Homo sapiens: one gene and its partners. The protein of the gene in region 7 purifies or fractionates together with the protein of the main gene of each other region. This does not show direct contact. Each region holds a gene or a part of one and is shown on either strand. Other genes may lie near its edges.

Region 1 (2,803 bases), on a different chromosome or scaffold from region 7:
ATGAGTTCAAGGGGCAGTTGCAGCCTGTTCTGGGAGTTCTGGGAGCAGAGTAAAGGGGACCACCCTGCAAACCCCTTCCCTCGCCAAGGCCTTCAAGGAAGGATCTGACTGTCCCCATCTCTTCCTTGAGAAAGTTGGGTCACCTGGGGAACCCATGAGACTCTTCCAACCCCTAAAACACTCCTGCCTCCACCTTGCCAAATCGTTACCATCTTCCAGCCTCAACCCACACCCCAACTCTTCCAGAAAGCCTTTCCCAATACATGCAGCCTGCACATCCCTCGCTCTGGAACCATCCAGAACCCTGCCCGGCACTTCCTATTACAGCCTCTTCATGTTGAAAGATACTTTGGAAGTGAAGAGCCTTCCAGATGTCTGATTTCATTGAGTCAGGCTTATAGCTGCAGGAATGTCTGCTTTTTTCACTAATAGTAATGATACTAAGAATGGCTAACAGCACTATGTGCTAGATGCTTGACATGCAAGAATTCACTTCGGTCTCTTAAGTAAGCTCATTTTATAGCTAAGGGAGTGGAGGCACAGAGAGGTCAAGCAACTTGACCCATGGCTGCACAGCAGGTAAGTAGCCGAGCCCAGATCTGAAGCGGGGTTCCAATCTCCACCCCATCTCTTGCCTTCGCGCTGGCTATTTCTGACTGGCTTACTACGGTTGCAGCTATGTCTGTCTCATTGTCTTGGGTGCAGAAGTTTTATCTCATCCTTCCCTAGTAACATCTTCCTTCTCCTCCTTCCTTCCTCAAATGGCTGAGCACACAGTAGGTGCTTTCGAAGTTCTTGTTCCAAGATAGGCCACTGCTAGGGTGTGGGGACACTTTCTGACATCAGGTGGCAGCATTGGCCAAAAGTTTTCTCCAAACTCTGGGTCTCATTAGTCAAGTAAAAACTTAAAACGTTTATTTCTGGTAGAAATGATAAATACTTTGCACTAAAAATCTGGAATTCAAGTTTTCCTCGTACTTCATGCTCCCTCCCTGCCCCAGAACCTTACAAAAATATTTCTGTGTAGAGAGGGAAAGAGCTGGTGCCTGCTCTGGAGGCAACGTCCAGGTCCGGGAAAGGCACTCGTGGTCTGTGATCTGTCTCAGTGATGGGAGGTCTCCACTCGCCCCACAGGCAGCCTCGGGGCCAGAGATGAGAATATGCTGTAATCCAGTACAGGGGCTGCGTCGTGGGTCCCCAACAGCTCCTTCTTTGGGGATAGTGAGCCCCTTGTTGGGGAGTAGGAAGGGACTGAGGGGCCAGCTCCTTCCAGATGTGTGCATGGGGAAGGGAGTTGTGTCTGGGGAGGTGGGTGTCCAGGTATAGACTCCTTTTAGGGTCTAAACGTTCAAGGAGTTCAACAGAACAACCAGAGGCCATCATGTTTTGGCAGCTTGCAAGTGAACACTCCAGGGGAGATGCAGGAGGGAGGGGTGTAGATCTGGGGAGCCCTTCTCTCCCTCTCTGCCCGCAAGGAAGGCACAGGGTGGGAATGGGGGTGCCTTCATGAGACCCCCTGCCATGCCACACCCCCTTCACAGTCATGTGAGATGGGGCCAGAGGGGCCCAGGCTCTAGGGCCAGGGGAGTGGGGAGGGAGGGAAATAAGGCCTCAGGTGGGGGTTGCCACCCCCTCTAGTGGCTGGTGAAGAGCAGTGGGCCCAGAGCAGCCACCCGCCAGGTTGCTCCCACCCTAGCCTGGGTAGGGATCCTCATCCCAGAGACACAGCTGCCTCTGGGGCACGTAGAAGTCGAAGCTGTAGCTCTTCTGGCAGCTGCGGATGCCACACTTGTAGGGCGTGGGCCGGTCGCGGCTGTGGCAGTACTTGAGCATGCAGGGGTACCAGGCCAGGCTCAGGCCATAGCGGCAGACGCAGGGCTTCCCGTGGTCCCCCACCTGCCTGCAGCGAGGCAGCTCCGCCTGCTCTGAGGCCTTGGGCAGAGCCTCGAACACAGAACTGTCCACACCTGGGGGAGAGAGGCAAGGATCAGGGAGGGAGGGAGGGAGGGAGGGAAGGAGCTCCCCTAGTCAGAGGCCGCTGCCATTCCCCACTTGGTCTCCTCTGTCATCCCACAGGCATTTACAGACACCTCCATTTCCAAGCTTGCCATGGGACACAGAGGTAAGACCTGGTTACTAGGCTCCTCCTTGCTGGGCTCGTGGGAGAAACAGATTAAATAGGAATCACCCTCCTCTATGGCATCAACTGTGTGCTACGGGCTCTACTTACAGTACCTCCATCAGTCACCCCATGGGCTAAGTATCGTCATCCCTGTTTTAGTGATGAGAACATCGACCCAGAGTTTAATGATCTGGCCAAGGTTTCAAGGCCTCCACTAGACCACACTGCCACCCAATGCTTTAAAAAATCACCATACCGGAGTGTGCTGAGATAGAGGCGTGGGGAGACAAGGTTGGAAGTCAAGGAAGGCTTCTTAAAAAAGGTGACATCTGGCCGGGCACAGTGGCTCATGCCTGTAATCCCACTTTAGGAGTCTGAGGCAGGTGGATCACCTGAGGCCAGGAGTTTGAGACCAGCCTGGCCAACACGGTGAAACCTTGTTTCTACTAAAAGCACAAAAATTAGCTGGGCACAGTGGCGGGCACCTATAATCTCAGCTATCCTGGAGGCTGAGGCAGGAGAATTGCTGGAACCCGGGTGGCGGAGGTTGCAGTGAGCCGAGATCGTGCCATTGCACTCCAGCCTGGGGGACAACAGTGAGACTTTATCTCAAAAAAAAAAAAGTGACATCTGAGTAGGGCTAGGCAGAGAAGGGCCAGCAAAGCACACCCACAGTGGGGC
Region 2 (3,500 bases), on a different chromosome or scaffold from region 7:
ACACCCCCAGGGGCTCCATCAGTCCTGGCTAGCTCAGCACCATGTTAAATAGCTTCCTTGCAATCTCCCTTAAATAAACCCATCCCCAGAGCAACCTACCCACCCTGCACCCTGAATATATTATCCTATTGGCTTATGCCTTCTAGACTGGAGGCGCTCTCTCCTCTTGCCCTCTACTCCAGGGGATACCATCTCCCTAAAAAACCAGGGGAGGAAGTTTTTTTCTCAACTCTGGGGCAGAGACAAAGGGTGGCCTGGGTTGGAGTGGAAAAGCCAGGAATAGCTTCCTCTGTCCCTTCCCTCCCCAGGGTACTTCCTTCTCCTTGCCCTCTTAGCAGCCTGGGTCAGGCGCGACTTACCCAAGGTCACAGACCCAGGACCCAGAGTCATGACCCATGTAGGAGGTTACCCTGGTTTTGACAGCCCAAACCAGCTCCAGGGCAGGAGGACTGAACTTAAGCCTGCCTCCACCTTGGCCCCTGCAGTTCTCCAGGCTCGGAGTGAGCTGAGGGAGGTTCCAGCTCTTGACTCCACTCTGTCCCGGACCCCTGGGACTATCTCCCAGGACCCTCCACCCCTGGTGTCTCCAGGTCTCTCTTGCTCTGGGGATACTCAGACAGCACCAGGCATGGAAGCAATGGGGCCCGGGACATGGGCAAGCCTGTCCCTGGCCCGATCAGCATCTGGGCCCAGGCCAGGCCTCACACCCAGTACTGGCCATTCTTAAGGGCAGGGTTGGGTGTCCGGCAGAACTGCAGCAGCTCTGGGTCAGGCTGGCCTCCTGGAGGGGGCCCCTGGCCAGGCACAGCTGTGAGCGGGATGGCCTGGCCTGGCTCCACCTTGCGAAAGGTCTCGGTGTCACCAGCCAGGCCGTTGCGGGGCTTGGCAGTCAGGACCTGGACGTCATGCTTGCCCGTCTTGTTGCGTTTTCGGAGGTAGAAGAGCAGGGGCAGGATGAGCGCCAGGAGCAGAAGTACCAGGCACATGGGGATGATGACGCTGAACATGTTGGCCTCAAGGAAGCTCAGGAAGCCTCCCTTGGCCACAGCGGGCTCAGGGCTGGATGCCATGGGGCCTGGCTCGCCTGTGGGGGTGCTGCTCTCTGGCTTCCCTGCTTCCGTCCGGGCGGCCTCGGGGACACTGAGCAGGGCCACGCTGTAGGGCCGGGCAGCATTGTAAGGCTCAGTGGCAAAGTCCAGGGAGGCCACAGCAGGCGGGACGCCCTGTGCCCACAGCTCCAGAGTGAGACTGTCACCTGCGGGGCCGGGGGCCCTCCCCTCTGGCCTGCCCACCTCCAGCCCCAGCCTCCCGTCCTCAAGGTCCTGCTGAGTGAACTGCTCCACCAGCTGGCTGCCCCCGGGCTCCGTCCTGGCTCGGGGCACGCGGACCACGCGGCCATGCCGGGGTCCCTCCAGGAGGCGGAAGCGCGGCACACTGCCTGTGCGGTTGGCCAGCTCGCCAGCATCTAGGACGGTGGGGTCCAGGCGCAGGGTGGCACCCTGGGGCCATGGCCCACCTGCCCACACATGCAGCAGAGCCCTCACAGTGACGTTCACTACGGCTGATGCATTGACACCCCTAGCCAGTGCCAGGACTCTGAAGTGGTCATGAGAGGAGGAGAAGTTGGTGAAGGCAAAGACCACCTCGCCCTGGTCTATCTGGAATTGGCTGAAGGCCGAGGTGGGCCGCCCGCCCACCAGGAGATGCCCATACTGGGGTCCCTGGATGAGGCGGTATGCTGCCTCTGGCTCCTCCCGATCTGAAACCACCCGGAGCTGCTGCTGGCTCAGTGAGGAGCGCCCCAAAGCTTGGGGCACCTCCAGGGGTGCCCGCAGCTGCACCTCGATGGCGGATGGTAGGATGTCCACAGCCAGGGACATGGGCAGGGGTGGGCTGGCCCCATCAGACATGCTCAGCTGGAAGATGCCTGCCACGCTGCTCCCGTTGGCCACGAAGGCCAGCCGCCCTGAATCCACATCGGCTTGCGTGAAGCGGGTCACGGGCCCCAGGCCACCACCCACCAGGCTGAGGAAGCCGTTGTGGGGTGCCCGCTGGACCTCGTACTCAATCTCCCCAGGAGCTGAGTCTGGGTCCACCACACTCAGCTGGGCCCGGGAGATGGGGGCACGAGAGCCTCGGGTGAGCCGGAGTGGGACAGAGGCCTGTGGCTGAGGGGGCCGCTCATTTACATCCCTCACCGTGATGGCAAAGGCCTCTGAGGTTTGGGGTCCAGCCACGGAGGCCCCTGCTGGCCCCTGGAGGTGGGCACGAAAGTGGAAGCCATCCTGCTGGGTGCCCCCACCGCCGTGGGCATACACTAGCTGCCCTGCAGCCAGCTGGGACTGCAGGAAGTGGGGCTGCCCAGCATGGAGGGGCTCCTCGGACACCAACAGCTGGCCCCGGCTGGGGAACTGTGTGACCTGGAAGAGCACATCATGCTCTGAGCGCTGGGGTGATGGAACGCTGGCCAAGAGATTGGAGGCATCCAGAGCAGCCACGGTGATCCTGGCCCGCTGGCCCTCGGGGACCCAGAGACCTGGGGGTGGGACATAGGCTATGAGGGTCCAGCCCACTGAGGGGAGAGTGATGGACCCTCAGCTGGGGGTGCCTCAGGGCAAGGATGTGCCTCCCCCCAACCATCAAGCCAGGTCCTCCAGGGTGGGGCTCAGGGTTCCCAGGAGGATAAGGACTATGTCCCCGCTGTGATGTCAAAGCTTCCCCACTCACCCTCCCTGTGACTTCCCAGGTCCTGGGGGCTGAGACAGGAGCTGCTGACCCTGGCCTCGTGTCCCCTCCTCCTGGGCCTCTCCCATTGTCCCTCCCCACAATCTTGCCAGCTTATCATGCTGTTCACCTTTGTTCTTCCAGAGGTGGCTGGGGCGCTGGGGACAGGCAGCCTCAAAAGACACAGCCACAGCAAGGGTGGCGGCCACGTCCCGGGCAGGCGGCGAGGACAGCTGGAGCTCTAGGGTATCATGGGCCTCCCAAAAGGGCTCGGGGGGCATCTCATGCTCATACAGAATATTCCCAGCGTAGACCTAGGGGAGACACCATCGTGGGGTGAGAGGCAGGTCCAGCCTGTGTTGTCCAGACACTGAGCACTTTTGTCTCCTCAGGCCCCACTCTGGGCTCTCCTGGGTGTGCCCAGGTCTGTGCGTGTGACCCGCTGTCTCCCTCACTAACTCACTGGGTCACATCAGGCAATGCAGTGCAGAGCTGGGCTCTGGAGCCGGAGCCTGGGCTCAAACCCCAACTCTGCCACCCTGGGGAAATCGCCTAATTTCTCTGACCTCTGGGGAATGCAATGATCTGTCTGTGCTGCTCTCTAAAGCGAGTACTTCCTCTTGTGCACAGGATCCTATCCCCTCTTGCCTTCTGAAGACACCACTTCTACTGTCTCTTGGCTTTCTCCTATGGTGTCAGTTCCCCCCAGATGCATCATTCCCTTCATTATGCAACTATGCTATTCTTTTGTCTCACTTACATTAAAGCTATTTAAT
Region 3 (4,189 bases), on a different chromosome or scaffold from region 7:
TTTGGGAGGCTGAGGTGGGCAGATCACTGGAGGTCAGGAGTTCAAGACCAGCCTGGCCAACATAGTGAAACCCTGTCTCTACTAAAAATACAAAAATTAGCCGGGTATGGTGGTGCATGCCAGCTGGTGCAATACCAGCTACTTGGGAGGCTGAGGTGGGGGGATCACTTGAACCCAGGAGGCAGAGGTTGCAGTGAGCTGGGATCACGCCACTGCACTCCTGCACTCCAGCCTGGGCAACAGAGCAAGACTCCATCTCTAAATAAATAAATAAATAAATAAATAAATAAATAAATAAATAAATAATTCTAAATAAAGAACTACACAATGAATTACAAATAAAATATTTACAGCTCTAATTATATCTCAGATTTAAAATCATATGGAGGCTGGGCACAGTGGCTCACACCTGTAATCCCAGCACTTTGGGCAGCCAAAGTAGGCAGGCCGCTTGAACCCTGGAGTTCAAGACCAGCCTAGGCAATATGGCAAAACACCAACTCTACCAAAAAAACAAAACAAAATAAAAACCACACACACACACACACACACACACACACACACACACACACACATAAATTAGCTGGGTGCGGTGCTAGATAGGTGCTGATCTGGGAGGATCCCATGAGCTCGGGAGGGGGAGGTTGCCATGAGCTATGATCATGCCACTGCACTCCAGCCTTAGTGACAGAACTAGACCGTCTCAAAAAAGTAAATAAATAAAAATAAAGTAAAATCAAATCATATGGATTAAAAACATCACATCTATATCCAAATTTCCTCATAAGTAAACCACAGATGACTTTTAATCCAATTAAGCAATCAAAAACTTTTAACTGAAAGCATTATGGGGCCAACTATTCTTTATGTGATATACTTGAAGAATTAATTTATCTGCTCTATCAGTGTTATATATAACAAGTGTAATTCCCCATATGTTTATATATAATACACATACACAAACCCATATAATTTTTACCTCTGCCTAGATTCAGTCAAAATGTAACAATCTCTACAAAGAGAAAAAGCCTAGCAAATTTCTATGATGACAAGGAGTTAAGTGTGGCAAGCTACTTTGCCTTTCTCCTCTCCAAAACACTAGCTATGAAGCAAATATTTAATTGTCCTAATGAACTATTTAGGTAATAAGCGCATGTAGTTACAAATTGGCTGAATGATAGGGGTTTGAATGCTGAAGTTTTGCAATTGTAGCTGTTTAATGTAAGATCAAAAAATAATGTTTTAGTCCCAAGTTAGATTTTTAAAGTACTGCATTCATCCTGATGACTAACTAATAGAAACTAGTGGAATGTTAGCAAATTGATATATAATTTTCTAGAAATTTCCATCTTCAAAAAGTTTACTTTGGAGCTCTAGACTCCTAAAAGTTATTTGTAATTCAGAGTTCTCACTCCTGTTCCAATCCCTGAAAATAAAACATAGAACAAGAAGTCATTTTTGGCCAGGTGCGGTGGCTCACGCCTGTAATCCCAGCACTTTGGGAGGCCAAGGCGGATGGATCACCGGAGGTCAGGAGCTCGAGACCAGCCTGGCCAACATGGTGAAACCCCGTCTCTAGTAAAAATACAAAAAAAAAAAAAAAATAGCCGGGTGTCGAAGCAGGCACCTGTAATCCCAGCTGCTCGGGAGGCTGAGGCATGAGTATCACTTGAAGCCGGGGGGCGGAGGTTGCATTGAGCGGAGATCCAGCCACTGCAGTCCAGCCTGGGCAGCAGAGCGAGACTCACCCTCAAACAAACAAACAAAAAGGCGTTTTTATTCAATAAACACACTTACAACTTTAGAAAACAAATTAACTGACCACTAAAATGTACTAATTGCCTTGGTATTCCTTATATATTTTTCAGAGAAAACTCAATATCCTGTCTTGAATCCGGGCATAAGGACATAAAGAACCTGAAACACAAAGATAAAGAATTCATGCCACCACCTCAGATCAGTGGCATGCAGTGTTAAAAAATCCTCAGTACAAACGATCTGAGAAATAGAATACAGTATTTAACAGTCCTTTTGATTTCAGGGTTAGAAAGTGACATATATCTACTGCTATACAAACCCTCAGTCATCCTAAAACATTTCGTTAATGTGAGACAAGCAAACCAAGCTCAAAGTCCAGAAATTGCAAAAGGGAGGCAGGTTTCAGGAGACGGGTGCAGGTTGGGGGCAGGCGCTTGGACAAAGGGAAGACACAGTGTGTTACCTTTTCTTCCCTACTCATAAGCTAGAATCTGCTCATCCTAGTTCTCTGACTGGGAACTTCAGCTTTGAAGGGAAATGGGCAGGTGTTCTCATCCCTCCATTGATACTTAGTGTCATCTAGGTTCTTAGATCTGTCCTGTAGGCAATACATTCTCGCAACTGTGCAAATAGTGATCCTGCCCCACCATTGCACTGCCTGCTCTATCCACGGCTGTTTCCATCCGCTGGGTGTCTGTCGGTACTTACTGGAAACTTTCTAGGAGGCTGCAGCTCTAGAGAAGAAAATCCTACCAACCAGGGCACGCAGTTCAGTCGACAATGCTGGGGAAGGGAGAAGAGACGCTATTGATTACTCACAGTTTGCCTCTGAGACGGGAAGCACTAGGAGGAGACACGCCAGCAGCGCCCCGCAGCGCCCACCCAGGACCCTCATTTCGAAGCGCGCGGAGGCGCCGGCAGGGACGGTGGCGCGTCGCGGCGGGGACCGGAGCGCTAGGCGCCGCGGAGCTGCGAGCCTGTGCGCCTCGGTCTGAGCCGTGCTGCGCGGCGGCGCCAGCGACCCAGCGAGCCTCGGCGGAACAGCCGGGGGCGGAGGAGACCGCCCGCTCCCAGCGCCCAGCCCGAGAGGGGAAGTGATAACAAGGACATTTCCAGGAAGCTTTTCGGAGCTGGGGGATGGGCTCTAGTGTTGGAGGCCTAGTAAACACTGCTGAGACATCCTTCTTCACCAGCTCCCTAGTTGCTGCTTTTCCTCCACAGTGTGACGTTTCCAAAGGGGAAGGGGTGGGGAACGCAGTTCTCTGACTGGTCAAGACAACTTCCAGGGTTCAAGAGGACAGGATCCCTAGGTTCAGAAGCAGAAACAGTGAGACACTGAGTTGTCCCTGAAGATATTAACCAAAACCTGGAAGTCAATGAGGACTTTAGGAAGAACTATGGTGATAGTAAAAGCAAATGGGGTCATTTTGATCATCCACATGTTTTTTCGGTCTTGTATGCCATACAGGCATAAAAATAATGTAAAGAACATGAAGAAAAGAAGGGAATATTAGAATAATCTACCTTAAAAAAAATCTTGCTCCGATAAAGACTTCAGTTGAAAGTGAATATCTATCTATACATCTACCTATTTATTAATTTAAAAAAATTTTTTTTTTTTTTGAGACAGAGTCTCACTCTGTCGCCCAGGCTGGAGAACAGTGGCGCAATTTCGGCTCACTGCAACCTCCACCTCCCGGGTTCAAGTGATTCTCCTGTCTCAGCCTCCTGAGTAGGTGGGATTACAGGCGCCTGACACCATGCCTGGCTAGTTTTTTTGTATTTTTAGTAGAGACAGGGTTTCACCATGTTGGCCAGGCTGGTTCTGAACTCCTGATCGTGAGTGATCTGCCTGCCTCGGTCTCCCAAAGTGCTGGGATTACAGGTGTGAGCCACCACACCTAGCCTTATTTATTTATTTATTTATTTATCCGAGACAGGGTCTCACTAGGTTGCCCAGACTGGAGTGCAGTGGTGCAATCATAGCTCACTGCAGCCTCGAACTTCTGAGCTCAAGCAATCCTCCTGCCTCAGTCTCCTGAGTACCTAGGACTACAGTCACACACCACTATGCCAGGCTAATTTTTTAATTTGTTTTTTTTTTTTTTTTTTTTTTTTGGTAGAGATGGTATCGCTGTGTTGCCCAGACTGGTCTGGAACTCCTGACCTCAAGTGATCCTCTTGCCTTGGCCTCCCAAAGCTTTGGGATTACAGGTGTGAGCCACTTCTCCTGGCCTGAATATCTTTTTAATACCACAAATTTGCATCACATTGCCAGTAATAATTGTCAACACTGAAAATTTATGTGTCCTACACTGTAACGTCAAACTTTGTAAAACCATCTGGAATCTATTAATATACAATTTGACAATACATCTTTCAATAAAATTCTGGGTTTTTAATTAATCTCAGAAGTTAACTTTGTGAAAGT
Region 4 (3,500 bases), on a different chromosome or scaffold from region 7:
ACTGGTTAGCTATATGGAATTAAATAAATTCCTATTTATTGGTGTGTGTTTTAAGATGCAACAGACTAGAACATGTTGAAGGCTGTTGGGTGGATGTTAGCGGAAAGGAGGAGAGGGAGATCAAGGTACAGTAGAAAAAGTGAGAAAAAAATGCGGACAGGGCTGGGATGCAGAACCCTGGGAGAGCAATTTGCCTCTAAAGGAAGGTCTAGGGTAGTAGACCAACTCAATTCTTATAAAGTAAGATTCTAGAGATATCAAAGATTTTTTTAAGTTATAAAACATACAATTATACAAAAAAAAATGTCATAGAGACCCATAAATTCACTGCCAAGTTAAACAGATGTTAATGTTTTGCCTGATTTGTTTCAGATCTCTGGTTTAAAAAAAGGAATAAAATGCTTGTGCTAATAGCTAAAGCCCACCTTCATATTTAGTCACTCTCCCTCCCGCCAGAAACAACCACAACCCTCACTATGTTTGTTTTGTATTTTTATTACTGATATATATATTACAGACAATAGATAGTGTTTTGTGTTTTAAAATTATACATCAGGAGTATCAACTTGTTTTTTTCACTGATCAGTGTGTTTGCCATTCAATGGCATGACATGGAACTCTGGTTGAGTGATTTTTTTTTTTTTTTTTTTTTTTTTTTTTTTGAGACAGAGTCTCGCTCTGTCACCCAGGCTGGAATACAGTAGTGCAATCTAGGCTCACTGCAACCTCGGCCTCCTGGGTTCAAGCGATTCTGCTGCCTCAGCCTCCTGAGTAGCTGGGACTATAGGTGCCCACCACCACGCCCAGTTAATTTTTATATTTTTAGTAGGGAAGGGGTTTCACCATGTTGGCCAGGCTGGTCTTGAACTCCTGACCTCAAGTGATCCACCCACCTTGGCCTCCCAAAGTGCTGGGATTACAGGTGTGAGCCACCGTGCCTGGCCTGGTTGAGTGATTTTAATGTCTGTATTGTGTTTCATTGCTTACTTACCCATTCCTCTGTTGATAAACAGTTGGGTTTCAACTCTAATGCCCTTATACACAGTGCTGCAATGTAGGTCTTATTGTGAGTGTACAAGAATTTCTCCAGGGAAATACCTAGAAAGTAGAATCACTGGGTTACAGGAGTGTATGTTATTGGTGAATTCAATTTTTTGTTTGTTTTGTTTTGTTTTGTTTTTTGAGATAGAGTTTCACTCTTGTTGCCCAGGCTGGAGTGCAATGGCGTGATCTTGGCTCACTGCAACCTCCGCCTCCCAGGATCAAGCGATTGTCCTGCCTCAGCCTCCTGAGTAGCTGGGACTACAGGCGCCTGCCACCATGCCCAGCTAATTTTTGTATTTTTAGTGGAGACGGGGTTTCACCATGTTGGCCAGGCTGGTCTTGAACTCCTTACATTGTGATCCGTCCACCTTGGCCTCCCAAAGTGCTGGGATTACAGGTGTGAGCCACCATGCCTGGCCCTCAATTTTTTTAATGATTGAAAAAATATATAACCTAAAAGTTATCATTCTAACAGTCTTTAAGTGTACAATTCAGTGGAAACATTCAGTGTTCTATCACCATCACTACTATTTCCAAAACTTTTTTCATCATCCCAAACAAAAATAACTCCTATTTCTCCCTCTCCCAGACTCTGTTCTACTTTCTGTCTGTATGAGTTTCCTGTTCTAGGTACTTCACATGAGTGAAATCATACAAGATTTGTCCTTTTGTGTCTGGCTTATTTCACTTAGCATGGTGTTTTCAAGGTTCATCCATGTTGTAGCATATATCAGAATTTTATTTCTTTTTATGGCTTAATCATGTTCCATTGTCTGTATATACATTTTGTTTACCTATTTATCAATGGATGGACAAATAGGTTTTCATCTTTTGGTTACTGTGAATAATGCTGCGATGAACATTGGTGTACAAGTATCTGTTTGAGTCCTGTTTTCAATTCTTTTGGGTCTGTACCTAGGAGTAGAATGTGCCTTATGGTAATTCTAGGTTTAGTTTTTTGAGGAACTGCCAAACTGTTTTCCATAGCAGTTGCATCATTTTACATTCCTAGTAGCAGTGCACAGGGTTCCAGTTTCTCCACACTACCTCCATCACTTATTTTCCTTTGTTTTCTTTTTCTTTTTTTTCAGTAATAGCCATCTTAATGGGTGTGAAGTAGTATCTCATAGTGGTTTTTGATTTGCATTTACCTAGTGATTAATGATGTTGAACATCTTTTCATATGCTTGGTGACCATTTGTATATCTTTTTTGGAGAAATGTCTATTCAAATCCTCTGCCCATTTTTGAATTGAGTTGGTTTTTGTTGGTGAGTTGTGAGAGTTCTTTATGTAATAAATTCTGAATATTAATCCCTTATCAGATCTATGATTTGTAAGTATTTTCTCCCATCCTGTGGTTGCCTTTTTACTATCTTTTGTTTTGCTTTGTTTTTTGGAGACAGAGTTTCACTCTTGTTGCCCAGGCTGGAGTGTAATGGCGCGATCTCAGCTCACTGCAACCTCCGCCTCCCAGGTTCAAGCGATTCTCCTGCATCAGCAGTGTCCTTTGGTGCACAAAAGCTTTTAATTTTGATTTCCAAGAGTTTTATAGTTTTAGCTCTTAAATTTAGGTCTTTGATTCATTTGAGGTTAATTTTTTTTTCTTAGAGATGGGGGTCTCGTTATGTTGCCCAGGCTAGCCTCAAACTCCTGGGCTCAGGTAAGCTTCCTACTTCAGCTTCTGAGTAGGTGGGATTATAGGGGTGTGCCATTGTGCCCAGCTGCTGATTTTGAGTTAATTTTTGTATGTGGTGTAATTTTTGCATATGGTCCAACTTCATTGTTTTGAATATGGATATCCAGTTTTCCTGGCATCGTTTGTTGAAAAGACTGTCCTTTCCCCATGGAATATTCTTGGTATCCTTACCAAAAATCAGTTGACCATATATGTGAGGGTTTATTTCTGGCCTTTCTATACTATTCCATTGGTAAATATGTCTGTCTTTTTGCCAGTATCACACTGTTTTGATTATAGTAGCTTTGTATTAAGATTTAAGTCAGGAAATGTGAGTCCTCTAACTTTGTTCTTTTTTTAATATTGTTATGGATATTTGGGATCCCTGGACATTCCATGTGAATTTTAAGATTTTTTTTTTTCTATAAAAAACACCATTGGATGCCTTTCATTTCTTTTTCATTCCTAATCACTCTAAAACTTCCAGTATTATGTTGAATAGAAATGAAAAGAATGGCTGTCCTTGTCTTGTTCCTAATCTTAAGGGAGAAGCTTTCAATGTTTCACCATTGAGTATGACGTTAACTGTGGGTTTTTCTTATATGGACTTTATCAATAACTGAAGACATTCCCTCCTATTCCTAGTTGATTGTTTTTTTACATGAAAAGGTTATTGAATTTATCAAGTCCATTTTCTGCATCAGTTGAGATGATCATTTGGGTTTTTTCCCCTTCATTCTATTAATGTATATGACATTGATTTACCTATGTTGAACCATC
Region 5 (3,500 bases), on a different chromosome or scaffold from region 7:
TTGAGGCTGCAGTGAGCCGTGACCTCGCCACTGCCCTCCAGCCTAGGCAACAGAGCGAGACCATCTCAAAAATAAAAATAAAAATAAATTCATATCAGTTTAAAAAAGGAGAGGATAACTTAAAAGGAACATGAAGTAAATAATACTACAAGTGGCAACAATTATGAAAGTGGCACTAGAAGTTTTTGAAATACTGAGCTAGAAGGTTTTTCAAGTCCCTCTCACTCCTAAAAGCGTTGTTGGTACCGCGTCAGGCTGCAGATGGCATCCCAGGCCCCTTCCTACAGGGTTCCTCTCAAACGCTACCTCCTCACTGCAGCCTCTAGCAATTCAGCAGCCTCACTAGAAGTTACTCCCTCTGCTCTGCTCCCAGACCGTGTTTTACACCCATGGACTGTAGCATTTATTACTCAATATTATAACCATCTTTACATGTTTATCTCCCCTCTAGAACATGAGCTCCTTCAGACAAGAATTATGTCTTGCTATTTTATCCCCCAAGACATCTATTACGATGTTCTGTGTCTGATACAAAGTAGGTGCTTGATGAATGTGTGCTGAAAAAATGAATCAATGCTTCTGCTCCTTTTTTGCTGAAGAGAAGACACAGACAGTGGAAGAATTGTTGCCAGAGATCCATTTGCCATCATTCCAACCCAGCGCCCCTTAGCACTTAAGCTGGATGGCAGAACACTTGCCTTTCTGGCCTAGCTTTGAGTACTAATTTAAATGAGGATTCATTAAGTCATTTTAAAGAGGCCCCACCATTACGAAATGTGTGGAAAATCACATTTTTCTTCAAGAAACTTAACAGGATCAAAAAGAAACCAGTCATCCCAGTACAAAGCCAATTATAAAGGTACCTATTCGTGTTTTATTATTTTTCTTTCTTTATTTATTTTTTGAGATAGGGTCTCGCTCTGTTACCCAAACTGGAGCGCAGTAGTGCAATTATGGCTTACTGCAGCTTCAAACTCCCAGGCTCCAGTGATCCTCCCACCTCAGCCCCCCAAGCAGCTAGGGCTACGATGCACACCACCATGTCTGGCTAATTTCTGTATTTTCTGTAGAGATGGGGGAGGGTCTCACTATGTTCCCCAGGCTGGTGTCAAACTCCTGGGCTCAAGCGATCCTCCTGCCTTGACCTCCAAAGTGCTAGGACTATAGGCATGAGGCACCATGCGCAGCCTATAGAAGTACTTTTGACTTCTGCAACATAGACCAGAACTGGGTAAATATCTGAGAACATTCCTTCCACATTCTTCTAGTGCCAGGATGTAATACTGGAAAATACTAGGCTTGATTGGTGACATGAAAACCCAAATAGAGGTTTCACTCTTGTCATAAATGACATATGAATACAAAGTGCTGTACCATGTAGAAATGAAACACATGTAAGAGGATAGTATTAAACCAGAAAAAAACAATAAGAAAGGTCCTATTTCAAATTAAGAGGTTGCCCCTTCTGAAATATGAGGCTTGCTCAATCACATTCTTCATGTTATTTTGGGCCTTGGGCCTATACCTAGCAGGTAGACTGGAAGAATCCTTAAGCCACATAGGAAATGATATTCTTTTAACCAGAATAAATCTGTCAACAAAAAGGTACAGGCTAGCTGCACTAAATACTCTCTGCAGGTTCTTATTAAAAATATAAATTAAGGTCCAGCATAGTCTCTTTACTCCCCACATCTGTTTGCTATTCTATCTCCATTATTAATACTGTAATGCTGGGTCCCCATTCAGGCAAGATTAATTCCCTCTTCCCAAATCCTTCTGCTGACACTGCAATGAATCCATTTGGAAGGCTGTAAAGGCAGCTGCAGACATTGCTCCCAACACGTGACCAGCGAAGAGATGAAACCTGGGCCTCTGAGCTTAACAAGAGAGAAGAGGAAGTTGGGTTAGGCCTGTGTTCAGAGAGGTGGAATAGCCCAGTGGTTAAAAGCTCAAACTCTGAGGCTGAATACAGTGGTTCACGCCTGTAATCCCAACACTCTGGGAGGCCAAGGCAGGAAGATCGCTTCAGCCCAGGCATCTGAGACCAGCCTGGGCAACATAGTGAGACCTCAACTCTACAGAAAATTTGAAAAATTAGCCAGGTGTGGTGGTGCATGCCTGTAGTCCCAGCTCCTTGGCAGGTTAAGGTGGGATAATTGCTTGAGCCCAGGAGGTTGAGGCTGCAGTGAGCCATGACTGAGCCACTACACTCCTGCCTGGGTGACAGAGCGTGACCCTGTCTCAAAAAACAAAACAAAAAAGCTCAAACTTTGGACTCAAACAGCCCAATTCAATCCCAGCTCTTTTACCCCTAGATCTGTAACTTTAGCAATTCATTTAACCCCTCAAGAGACTCATTTTTCTTATCTATAAAATAGGAATAACGAGACCCTGATAAGATTGTAAAGCATTTAACACAATGACACGGAAGACAGTAAGTACTAAACAAAGGGAAAAAAGGCTATCATCATCTTCTTTATGATACCATCATCATCTCCAGAATTGGTCGCTATGCAAAGGCAGGACAGGACGAGTCCTGCTACTCTTTCAACCTGCCCAGGTTAAGCAGCCACCACCAAGATAGAAAAGACATGGTATAAGGGGCAAAAAAGTACAAAAGGCAAAAACCAGAAGAGGATATGACAATACAAATAAAATCAGCTCTTGATTAACCATGCTAATGAGGTTGAGGGAAGACTATTTATTTTATTTTTAATTGACAGAATACAAACATAGAAAGATTACATTTAAATTGAAGAAAAGAAACTCTCCATCAAAAGAATATAAATAAAAAAAACTTTGTTTATTTTCATTATTATTATTATTATTATTACTTTTTTTTTTTTTTTTGAGATGGAGTTTCACTCTTGTTGCCCAGGCTGGAGTACAATGGCACAATCTTGGCTCACTGCAACCTACTCCTCCCAGGTTCAAGCAATTATCCTGCCTCAGCCTCCCTAGTAGCTGGGATTACAGGCATGTGCCACCACGCCCGGCTAATTTTATTATTTTTAGTAGAGACAGGGTTTCTCCATGTTGGTCAGGCTTGTCTCAAACTCCCAACCTCAGGTGATCCGCCTGCCTCGACCTCCCAAAGTGCTGGGATTATAGGCGTGAGCCACCACACCCAGCCTAATTATTATTTTTTTAAGACACAGTTTCACTCTGTTGCCCAGGCTGGAGCACAGTGGCACGATCTCAGCTCACTGCAACCTCTGCCTCCCAGGTTCAAGTGATTCTCGTGCCTCAGCCTCCGGGGTAGTTGGGAGTACAGGCACATGCTACCATGCCTGGCTAATTTTTTGTATTTTTAGTAGAGACAAGGTTTCACCATGTTGGCCGGGCTGGTCTCGAACTCCTGACCTCAAGTGAGCCACCTGCCTCAGCCCCACAAAGTGCTGGGATTACAGGCATGAGCCACTGTGCCCAGCCAAAAAAAATCTTTTTAAAATATAGATGGTAGCAGGCCGGGCACAGTCGTCACGCCTGTAATCCCAGCA
Region 6 (3,500 bases), on a different chromosome or scaffold from region 7:
GTGACCTGGAAGATGAGTGAGTAGTTGGCAAAGAACAGGGCCAGAATTTAGCATGACAGTGATGGAACTGTGCCATTTTAGAATAATCTGCAAAGTCAAAGGTCAATGTTAATGAAATATTTTATGACCTGGTCAGACAGATAAATAGAAAAACACCAGTGGAAAAGAAACAGCCTAAAAAGAAATCATGTCTGCTGCTCTAGGCCCATAGTCAGCAGCAGCTCTGAGCTAGGTTACAGGAATGAAGAACTATTGCCTAATTGGAAAGTGCCAGCATTCCAGACTTCAAAAAATAAATTTGAAGAGGCTTCTCCTGTTTTATACATTATGTGAAGAATTTAGATCTTATATTGGTTTGTATAAGTTCCCTGGAGAAAAAAAACTGCTCTGTGTATATCTCTTGGAAAATAAGACATAACAGATGTGAAAATATACTTGACTCTAATATGATTATACAAAAGAGCATGGATGCATTTCAAATGTTAGATATTGCTACTATAATCAAATGATTTCATATTGACCTTTTTATCATGATTCCTCCCTATCAAGCACTAAAAAGTTGAACCATCATACTTTATATCTGTAATGATATTGATATTGCAGTAGATAACTTTTTTGAATCAATTACCTCATTTTATATTTTAAAAATTATGGAATATCCTCTGTCATTATATTCTAATTGAAATTGTGCATAATGCTTTGGAAAAATGGGTCTTTTATAGGAAAAAAACTGGGGTAACTGATTTCTACGACTTTCAAAGCTAAAATATACAATATACTAAACCAACTCTAATATTGCTTCTTGTGTTTTACTGTCAGATTAAATTACAGTTCTTATGTATGATTAAATTTTAGTATATTAAAAAACAAATGGCATCATTAGGCCCAGGCTAACCATCAGGTCATAGTGAAAGAATGAAGAGACACAGAGAAAAAGACCTGCCCTACCTCCTGATGCCTAACACCGCACCTATCTCCTTTCCCTCGGGCTTCTTCTTCATCATAGAGATAAGGGGCCCTTTACCCCCATCTCTGCTTCTTGCCCACTGCCCTCAGAACTCTAATCCAGTCCCAAGGCCTCCCGTGTCCTCAATAATGGTATCACTTACAGAGGGATATTCGCTTTTCACTGGTAGTTTATTCAGGTAGCTATAGGTCTTGTCTTTTTGGATAGGGCAGTTAATTCCACTCTTACAACCATCAGGCTCAGGAATGGGAAAGGGAACTGGGACGCCCATCAGGATGCCATGCACCACGGCCTTGCTGCTTTTAGACTGAATATCTAAGAGAAAAAAAGAGAATCAGATGGCAAAGAAAATAACCTATTTTCAAACTCTAAATCAAAAATTCAGAAATAATCCCAAGCAACAGCATTCCTAGGGTCTATTTCTCTTGATAGTGGTGCTTGGTACTAGCACAGTGCAAGCATTCACTCCAAACACAATTATGCAAAAAAAAAAAAAAAAAAAAAAACAATCAGCAGAAGTTTTCTTTGCTCTTAACCTTGCTCTTCATGGCCCTTCACAGTTTCTTAGGAGAATCAGAGATACCTGGATAAACAACCTTATCTAACAAGGCAACTGATTTTTGGCAGTAAACTTTCTGTTTGCTATTTATATCAGCTTCTGTCCAAGTATATTGTGTGTCTTAAATGTCATGGTCTGTAACAACAGTGAAAGAGGTAACCCTTTAGCAGGGTAAGATTAGGCTGGATCACAGTAGCTCCCACCTGTAATCCCAGCACTTTGGGAGGCTGAGGCGGGTGGATCATCTGAGGTCAGGAGTTTGAGACCAGCCTGGCCAACATGGAAAAACCCTGTCTCTACTAAAACTACAAAAATTAGCCGGGCGTGGTGGCGCATGCCTGTCATCTCAGCTACTCAAGAGGCTGAGGCGGGAGAATCGCTTGAGCCCAGGAGGCGGAGGTTGCAGTGTGCTGAGATTGCGCCACTGCACTCCAGCCTGGGTGACAGAGCGAGACTCTGTCACAAAAAAAAAAAAAAAAAAAAAAAAAAAAAAGAAATTGGGTAAGATTAGAAAGACATGCAATTCTTTATAAACTTTACCCTCCACATCACAAGATGGCCAGGAGGAATAAAGGTATTAAAAAATGAGGGCAATCAGACTTATGAGTTATTAGGGTATTTTGGAGACCCAGAAAATTGGTTCTGTTTCTTTCCTTCTGTCTGGGTTGGGGATGACTTGTTCAGAAGGCTTTTTTTTTTGGTTTGGAACAATAGAGAGGCCAGGGTATAGTCCAGAGAGGAAACAGGGAGCTAGTACTTAGAGCTGTCTTTAGGCTTATGAACAAAAGATGACAGGAACTTTGAGGTTTCTTATTAGACTGTCTAGTCTAGTTTCACAGGACAGAAAATGAGGAAAAGATTCAAGGAACATGCCCTGCTTAGTAATAAAAGATTTTACATTTGTCTAGATTCTTAAAAATCTCAAAGTGATGTGGTACAAGAAAGCAAAAAGTTCCAATGATATTTCTTGAATATTGGAGAAGAAAGCTCAGATTTCTTGGCTATTTCTTGGGTCCCCAGTGGGTTCCCTAAATCTTAAGGAGGCTGTTAAGTATTAGTTGCACCTTTATTTTCAGGTGGGATGTAGACTTAATAGCTGAAAGGCATTACTGCTTAAAACAACATTTTGGAGGAGTTCCAAAGCTTAAAGAATTGGGGTCCATACTAATACTCTGCAGTCTGTAGCTAAACAGAGCTGACATTCCCATCATAGCCTACTATGCAATATGGGTCAAGACAGAAAAGCCAAGCTGTCTTCTCTAACCTGTGAACACATGGACATCTCCCTGTTTGCTTAAAGGGAGTCTGGGAGCCATGGACCCTGCATGAGAAGGGTGTCCAAGGGCACAGTGAACCCTAGCTTTGCATGAGGTGCAAAAGAAATCATAAAATTCATGACTGCCAATTCCCCTCCCCTCCATTCCCATGCTTATTCCAACACTTGATATTTAGGTTATGCTGTAACATGAATTTGAGTTAAGAGCCACTTTTACGCACTGCTGGTGAAGGTGACATTGACGCTGTAAGACTGTCCTTTGCTCAGCTGGCAGGGTTGGGTGGGGCATGGGCTCACATTCACTTCCTTTATAACTCCATCCACAGAACCTGCAAAAGAAAAATGAATTGGAATAGGAGAATAGGAGGAGAAATAAGCCAGCTAGGCTGCCCACCACCTAATGGGAAGGTGCTCTGCTCTCCCATTTAGGGTCAACTCATTCTCCTCGGACTGTTTCCCAGGATGGAATCTTTAAGAATAATGCCCAATTAGAAGTCAGAATCTTGATTCATCTTGCTGCTAAAATCATAGCCTTTAATTCAGATGATAAAGAAGCTAGTTGGTTTTTTGATCAAGAGAAAGTTAATATTTGTCAAACTAAATAATATCAAGACCATATCCATAAATGATCATATTAAAGGAATTAAACTTCAATCAGAGAAATTCCAAACATTCCTAGAGTCTTATCTCGCATTCTT
Region 7 (4,281 bases):
CCGGGGCTGGCCCTCGTGGTCATCACGCTCAGGGTCCTCTGAGCCGGGAGGACCATCATCCTGGCCACAGATGACCTATGGAGGGAGTTGTGAGTACAGTGAGAGCCCTGTCCCTGGAGGTCCACCACCCCCGCTACCAGCAGTACCCCTGTCCCTGCCACTTCACTCTGACCTGGGTGAGGAGCTCCTGCGTCTTGCCCACTGAAGCTGGGGGGCAAGTGTACACTCTAGCTTGTGTACATCTCAGGTTCTGACAGTTGGGTCACCCCCCCCCCCATTGTCCTTTCCTCACTGTCTTGGCCACTATTCAAATTCAAAGTCTCAAAGACCGACAATAATTCTCTCCAGTGAACTGTGGCACCAGGGACAACGGCTCCTACCCCTAGGGAGTCCCCAGTCTGATGGGGGAAGCCCAGCTTCTGATCTTGGGGAGCCCCCATCTAATTGCAGAAGCATCATCCCTGTGCTGACAGAGCCCCCAATTTGATAGGAAGTAGAATCCCTGCCTCTGTGAAATCCCCAGGCTGATGGGGGAGGCATAATCTCTGCTCTGAAACAGCCCCGAGTCAGACAGGGAAGCACCATTCTTATCCTGGGAGAGCCCCTGGTTTGACAGGAGAGGCCAGCCCCTGCCTTTTGGGACTTCCTAGTCTGTTGGGTAAGACACCGTCCCTACCCTAGGATAATTTCTACCCTTAGATGCAAAGAGAACCACCAGACAATGGAATAAGAAAGCAGAACACAGTGTAATTCTCAAGCACGAATATAGTTTAGGTTTGGCAAGAGAACTAGGGGAGACCCGGAGTGAATGCCACACCCAGGATGGCCATGGGAATGGAAAGCCAAACACCTCTCCAGGGTACACTGATGATGACATGCCACGATGTTACTTGCATTCTGAGGTAGGAGTTCTTATTCCCATTTCACAGATAAGGACACTGGGGCTCAGAGATTACAACACTACAAGGCTGAGTTCACATAGGGTCAGCCCTTCCTTTACACTCCACACTCCTGGCCTCACAGATCAGATGTGTCTTTTTGAAAGGGTTTTTATCCAGGCGCCATCCGCCTCTGGAATCTGCAGGGGCTCATCCTCCCTCTGCTGGATCAGCTGTGGTGACAACCCACACCTGGGAGATTCCTGGAGGTGCCACAGGGAGAGTGGGACAGCAGTGGGGGGCATCAGGGGGTTGACAGGGCTTCCTGAGGCGCAGCCTGGCTGTGGGTTTGCTCAGCTTTTGAAAGCAACCACTTGCCCTAGGTGTCTTTACTACCAGCACCGGGGGGCATCTGGATTTGGTGGTGACACTGGGGTGGGGACAGTAGGGTTCCAAGGGGCTGTGGGGTCCTCATGCCTGTGTTCTGGCCTGGGTGTTGCCGGCAGCTGTGTGCTGTGGCCGAGTCTGTCTCTGCCCCACAGTTCAGGCTGGCCCTGACTGCCAGGCCCCAGAGGTGGGGTAGAGGGACGGCTAGGACGGGAGGCTCGGGGTCTGGGTCTAGGGCTGCAGACCTGTAGGTACTTGCTCCTGAGGGTCACGGCTGAGTGGCTGGAGGGTAAAGGTGGGGCCGTGAGAAGGGAAGGGCTCTTCCCACAGTGGCATGGGGCGGTGGCAAGGGGCTTGTTGATTAAAGGGGCAGGTCCAGATGTGGGGCTGAGGCTTCACGACAGTATTGCGGGGAGGGTCAGCGGGCGCTCGGTCGGAGGGGAGTTAAGCCACGGGCTGGGTTCGGGGAGGGGATCCCCGGCGCCCTGGGTCGCCGAGAAGCCGCGGAGCCGGCGCACGGGGAGCGGGCTCTGGGCGCTCCGCTCAGCTGCCGCGAGTGCCTGGGGCGGGAGCCGCCTGCCCAAGTCCTGTGGGGCTCCGGCTGCGCGCAGCCGGGAGAGCAGAGGAAAACAACAGGCGGGGAGGGAGGGAGCGGGAGGGAAGGCGGGAGGGGAGGGACGCGGGGGCCGCCCCCCGCCTGGACCGGCTCTGTGCTCTGGGGGACCCAGAACCCGAGGCTCTCTGAGTCCCAGAGGTCAGGGGAAAAGCCTGCAGGTCACCAGCTCCACGACCCGCGCCCCACTCGCCCCCGGCTTCAGCGGTCCTGAGGCTCTGGGAAGGGGTAGGGTAACCCTGGCGACCCGGCTCCAGGCCTTTTTCCGAGCGCTGGTCGCACCTCCAGCCACCCGCTGCGGAGTGGGTGGGCCAGCCAAGCACCCTCTCCCCGCCCCTATTAACCCTATCTGTCCAGTCTCCGGCCTCGGACCCGCCCTCTCCCCCAGCCTCCAGTCTTCCCCGCCATCCCCGGGATGTCGGGGGAAGGGAGAAAGTTTCAGGGCTCGCAAGCTTCCCGCGCTCTCCCCCGATCCTCCGGGCCCCCGCCCCTCTGCGCAGCTCCCCTCGGACCACTCACCAGATAGAGGCTACCCTGCACCAGGAACACGAAGCAGCAGCGAGTCAGTTGCATCTTCCTCCTCCGCTCTCGTCCCCTCGCTCTCCCCTTCTCTTTTCGGGGTCCCAGGCCTCCTTCCCCTTCCTGCTCCTTCAGGCGCGCCGTCCCATGCTCCAGTCCCCGGCGGCCCGCGGCCCTCCCCTCAGCGGGTCGCCCAGGGCCGACCCCGCCCCCTTCGGTCCAGCTGTGCAGCCGCCGCCCCCCTCCCCTGGTCCAGCTGCGCGCGGCACGGCCCCCGCTCGAGGTCCCAGATGTGCGCCCCGAGCGCCTCGAAGGGCCCCAGCTGCGCCGTGGCTCTGCTGCTCCAGATCTGCGCTCGGCGCCCCCCTCGGCTCCAGCGGCGCCGCTCTCGCCCAGATGTGCTGGGGACCTGCGCGCGCGCCCGTCCTTGGTGCTAATTCCCCAAACCAGGCTGCTCCACCCGCCCCGTCGCGGCGCGCCCCCTGGCGGACGCCCCCAGCCGCGCGGAGCCCCGGCCGCCCGCTCCCCGCGCTGCGCTGCGCCCCGCCAGACTAGAGCGCTCCTGGCGCCCAGGCGGCTCCCGCTTCCTCGTCCCTCCCACCGGCGGCGGCGGCGGCGGCGGCAGGTACAGTGAGCCCAGCCGGTACCTCCGGAGTTAACTCCTCCCCTGCCGGCCCGCAGCCCGGGGACCTAGGACGCCGGCTCTCCAGCCAGGAGAGGACGGCACGCGGGGGCGGAGTAGCTCTTGGAGAGGAAGGGAGAGGGTGGTGGCCAGGGGATACGGACCCTACCGTTTCCACCTCTTTTGCAGGGCGCCCGTTCCCCGGGAGCGGGCAGCAAGAATCGGCTGCCCTGCCCCCAACTCAGGAGTCCTGGAATTAAGAAAGATCCTTTTTTTAAAAAACCCATTCTAAGAGCCAAAACCTGTGCTGAGGGAAGTCCTTCTGGGTGTCTAGCCTGCACTCCTTTTGTTATGATGTCTGCTCCTTCCCTCTTCTACTTTACTTGGAGGGGCTGAGATAATCCCTGGACCTTCTCGGTCCAGCCACTGTGACAGGAAGTATTTGGCTGGGCCCCTGGGCTGAAAAGGCTGTTAGGGGCCAGGCTAGATTCTGGGGCCGGGGGCAGGTCCTGAGAAGCTGGAGAGTGAGGGGAGCAAGGCCTTCCTGGAGCCTGTCCCTTCATTATTCACTACTTACCCTCTCTATGCCACAGGGGTCACCAGGCCGAGAGTGGCTCCTGTCCCAGTGGGGTCTCTGCAAACCTCCAGGGCAAGGAGGAAGAACACGACCCTGATCTGAGATTCCCAAAGATGGGGGCCCATCCTCCATCACCCCCACTCCATATCTTCAGGTCTCCCTCCTGGAATTCCAGGGTCCCTTTAGTCTGTAGAAAAATGAAAGGTCAAGTCCTGGCATCCCTTGGAGGCTATGAAGGTGAGGAGGCACCCCATCATTTGAAGTGGTCCCAGCTTGGGCTGGGCCCAAGGAGCACGGTGGGTGGGCACTCTGCTCTGTGGCCCTCCAAGGCCCAGCTTGGTCCCGTGGCTGCAACCCCGGCACGCACCCAGCCTCCTCCCCCACCATCTGCCAGGCGGGTGCGCGGGGAATGCAGATGAATCTTAATATCAGCCTGGGCCAAGTGCGATGAGGGAGACAGATTCTGCAAAACCCAGACAGCATCACAGAGCCCCCTGCATTTCCAGGCACCCTGGGCCATACCAAGATGCAACAGCTCTTTCTTGGTGTTGGTGGGGGGTGGGGTGGGTGGTGGCGTGCATGTCTAGTCAAAGACCCCCCCAAAGCCGGGGAGGCAGGAACAGGCAAATCTTTGTTTGGCCTCTAAGCCTCTGGTCTGGCTGGGAGGGAGAAGCTGTTGGCCTGA

The links.
Region 1: the proteins of NXPH3 (region 7) and OAF purify together in Homo sapiens (affinity purification with mass spectrometry; one large-scale study listed by BioGRID and IntAct). This does not show direct contact.
Region 2: the proteins of NXPH3 (region 7) and CSPG4 purify together in Homo sapiens (affinity purification with mass spectrometry; one large-scale study listed by BioGRID and IntAct). This does not show direct contact.
Region 3: the proteins of NXPH3 (region 7) and PROS1 purify together in Homo sapiens (affinity purification with mass spectrometry; one large-scale study listed by BioGRID and IntAct). This does not show direct contact.
Region 4: the proteins of NXPH3 (region 7) and OS9 purify together in Homo sapiens (affinity purification with mass spectrometry; one large-scale study listed by BioGRID and IntAct). This does not show direct contact.
Region 5: the proteins of NXPH3 (region 7) and SUFU purify together in Homo sapiens (affinity purification with mass spectrometry; 4 studies listed by BioGRID and IntAct, with this or other methods). This does not show direct contact.
Region 6: the proteins of NXPH3 (region 7) and NPC2 purify together in Homo sapiens (co-immunoprecipitation; one large-scale study listed by IntAct). This does not show direct contact.

What each region holds. Positions count from the first base shown.
Region 1 is NC_000011.10:120,228,032-120,230,834, reverse strand, and holds the end of OAF (out at first protein homolog precursor), read right to left. Parts: intron 1,968-2,803; coding exon 1,693-1,967; 3' UTR 501-1,692; downstream 1-500.
Region 2 is NC_000015.10:75,674,849-75,678,348, forward strand, and holds part of CSPG4 (chondroitin sulfate proteoglycan 4 precursor), read right to left. Parts: intron 3,039-3,500; coding exon 2,855-3,038; intron 2,537-2,854; coding exon 702-2,536; 3' UTR 1-701. UniProt on the Homo sapiens protein: Proteoglycan playing a role in cell proliferation and migration which stimulates endothelial cells motility during microvascular morphogenesis. May also inhibit neurite outgrowth and growth cone collapse during axon regeneration.
Region 3 is NC_000003.12:93,971,097-93,975,285, forward strand, and holds the start of PROS1 (vitamin K-dependent protein S isoform 2 preproprotein), read right to left. Parts: upstream 2,801-4,189; 5' UTR 2,654-2,800; coding exon 2,578-2,653; intron 1-2,577. UniProt on the Homo sapiens protein: Anticoagulant plasma protein; it is a cofactor to activated protein C in the degradation of coagulation factors Va and VIIIa. It helps to prevent coagulation and stimulating fibrinolysis.
Region 4 is NC_000012.12:57,700,632-57,704,131, forward strand, and holds part of OS9 (protein OS-9 isoform 1 precursor), read left to right. Parts: intron 1-3,500. UniProt on the Homo sapiens protein: Lectin component of the HRD1 complex, which functions in endoplasmic reticulum (ER) quality control and ER-associated degradation (ERAD).
Region 5 is NC_000010.11:102,510,472-102,513,971, reverse strand, and holds part of SUFU (suppressor of fused homolog), read right to left. Parts: intron 1-3,500. UniProt on the Homo sapiens protein: Negative regulator in the hedgehog/smoothened signaling pathway. Down-regulates GLI1-mediated transactivation of target genes. Down-regulates GLI2-mediated transactivation of target genes. Part of a corepressor complex that acts on DNA-bound GLI1.
Region 6 is NC_000014.9:74,483,306-74,486,805, forward strand, and holds part of NPC2 (NPC intracellular cholesterol transporter 2 isoform 2 precursor), read right to left. Parts: intron 3,132-3,500; coding exon 3,024-3,131; intron 1,283-3,023; coding exon 1,110-1,282; intron 1-1,109. UniProt on the Homo sapiens protein: Intracellular cholesterol transporter which acts in concert with NPC1 and plays an important role in the egress of cholesterol from the lysosomal compartment.
Region 7 is NC_000017.11:49,574,390-49,578,670, reverse strand, and holds the start of NXPH3 (neurexophilin-3 precursor), read right to left. Parts: upstream 2,801-4,281; 5' UTR 2,452-2,800; coding exon 2,398-2,451; intron 76-2,397; coding exon 1-75. UniProt on the Homo sapiens protein: May be signaling molecules that resemble neuropeptides. Ligand for alpha-neurexins.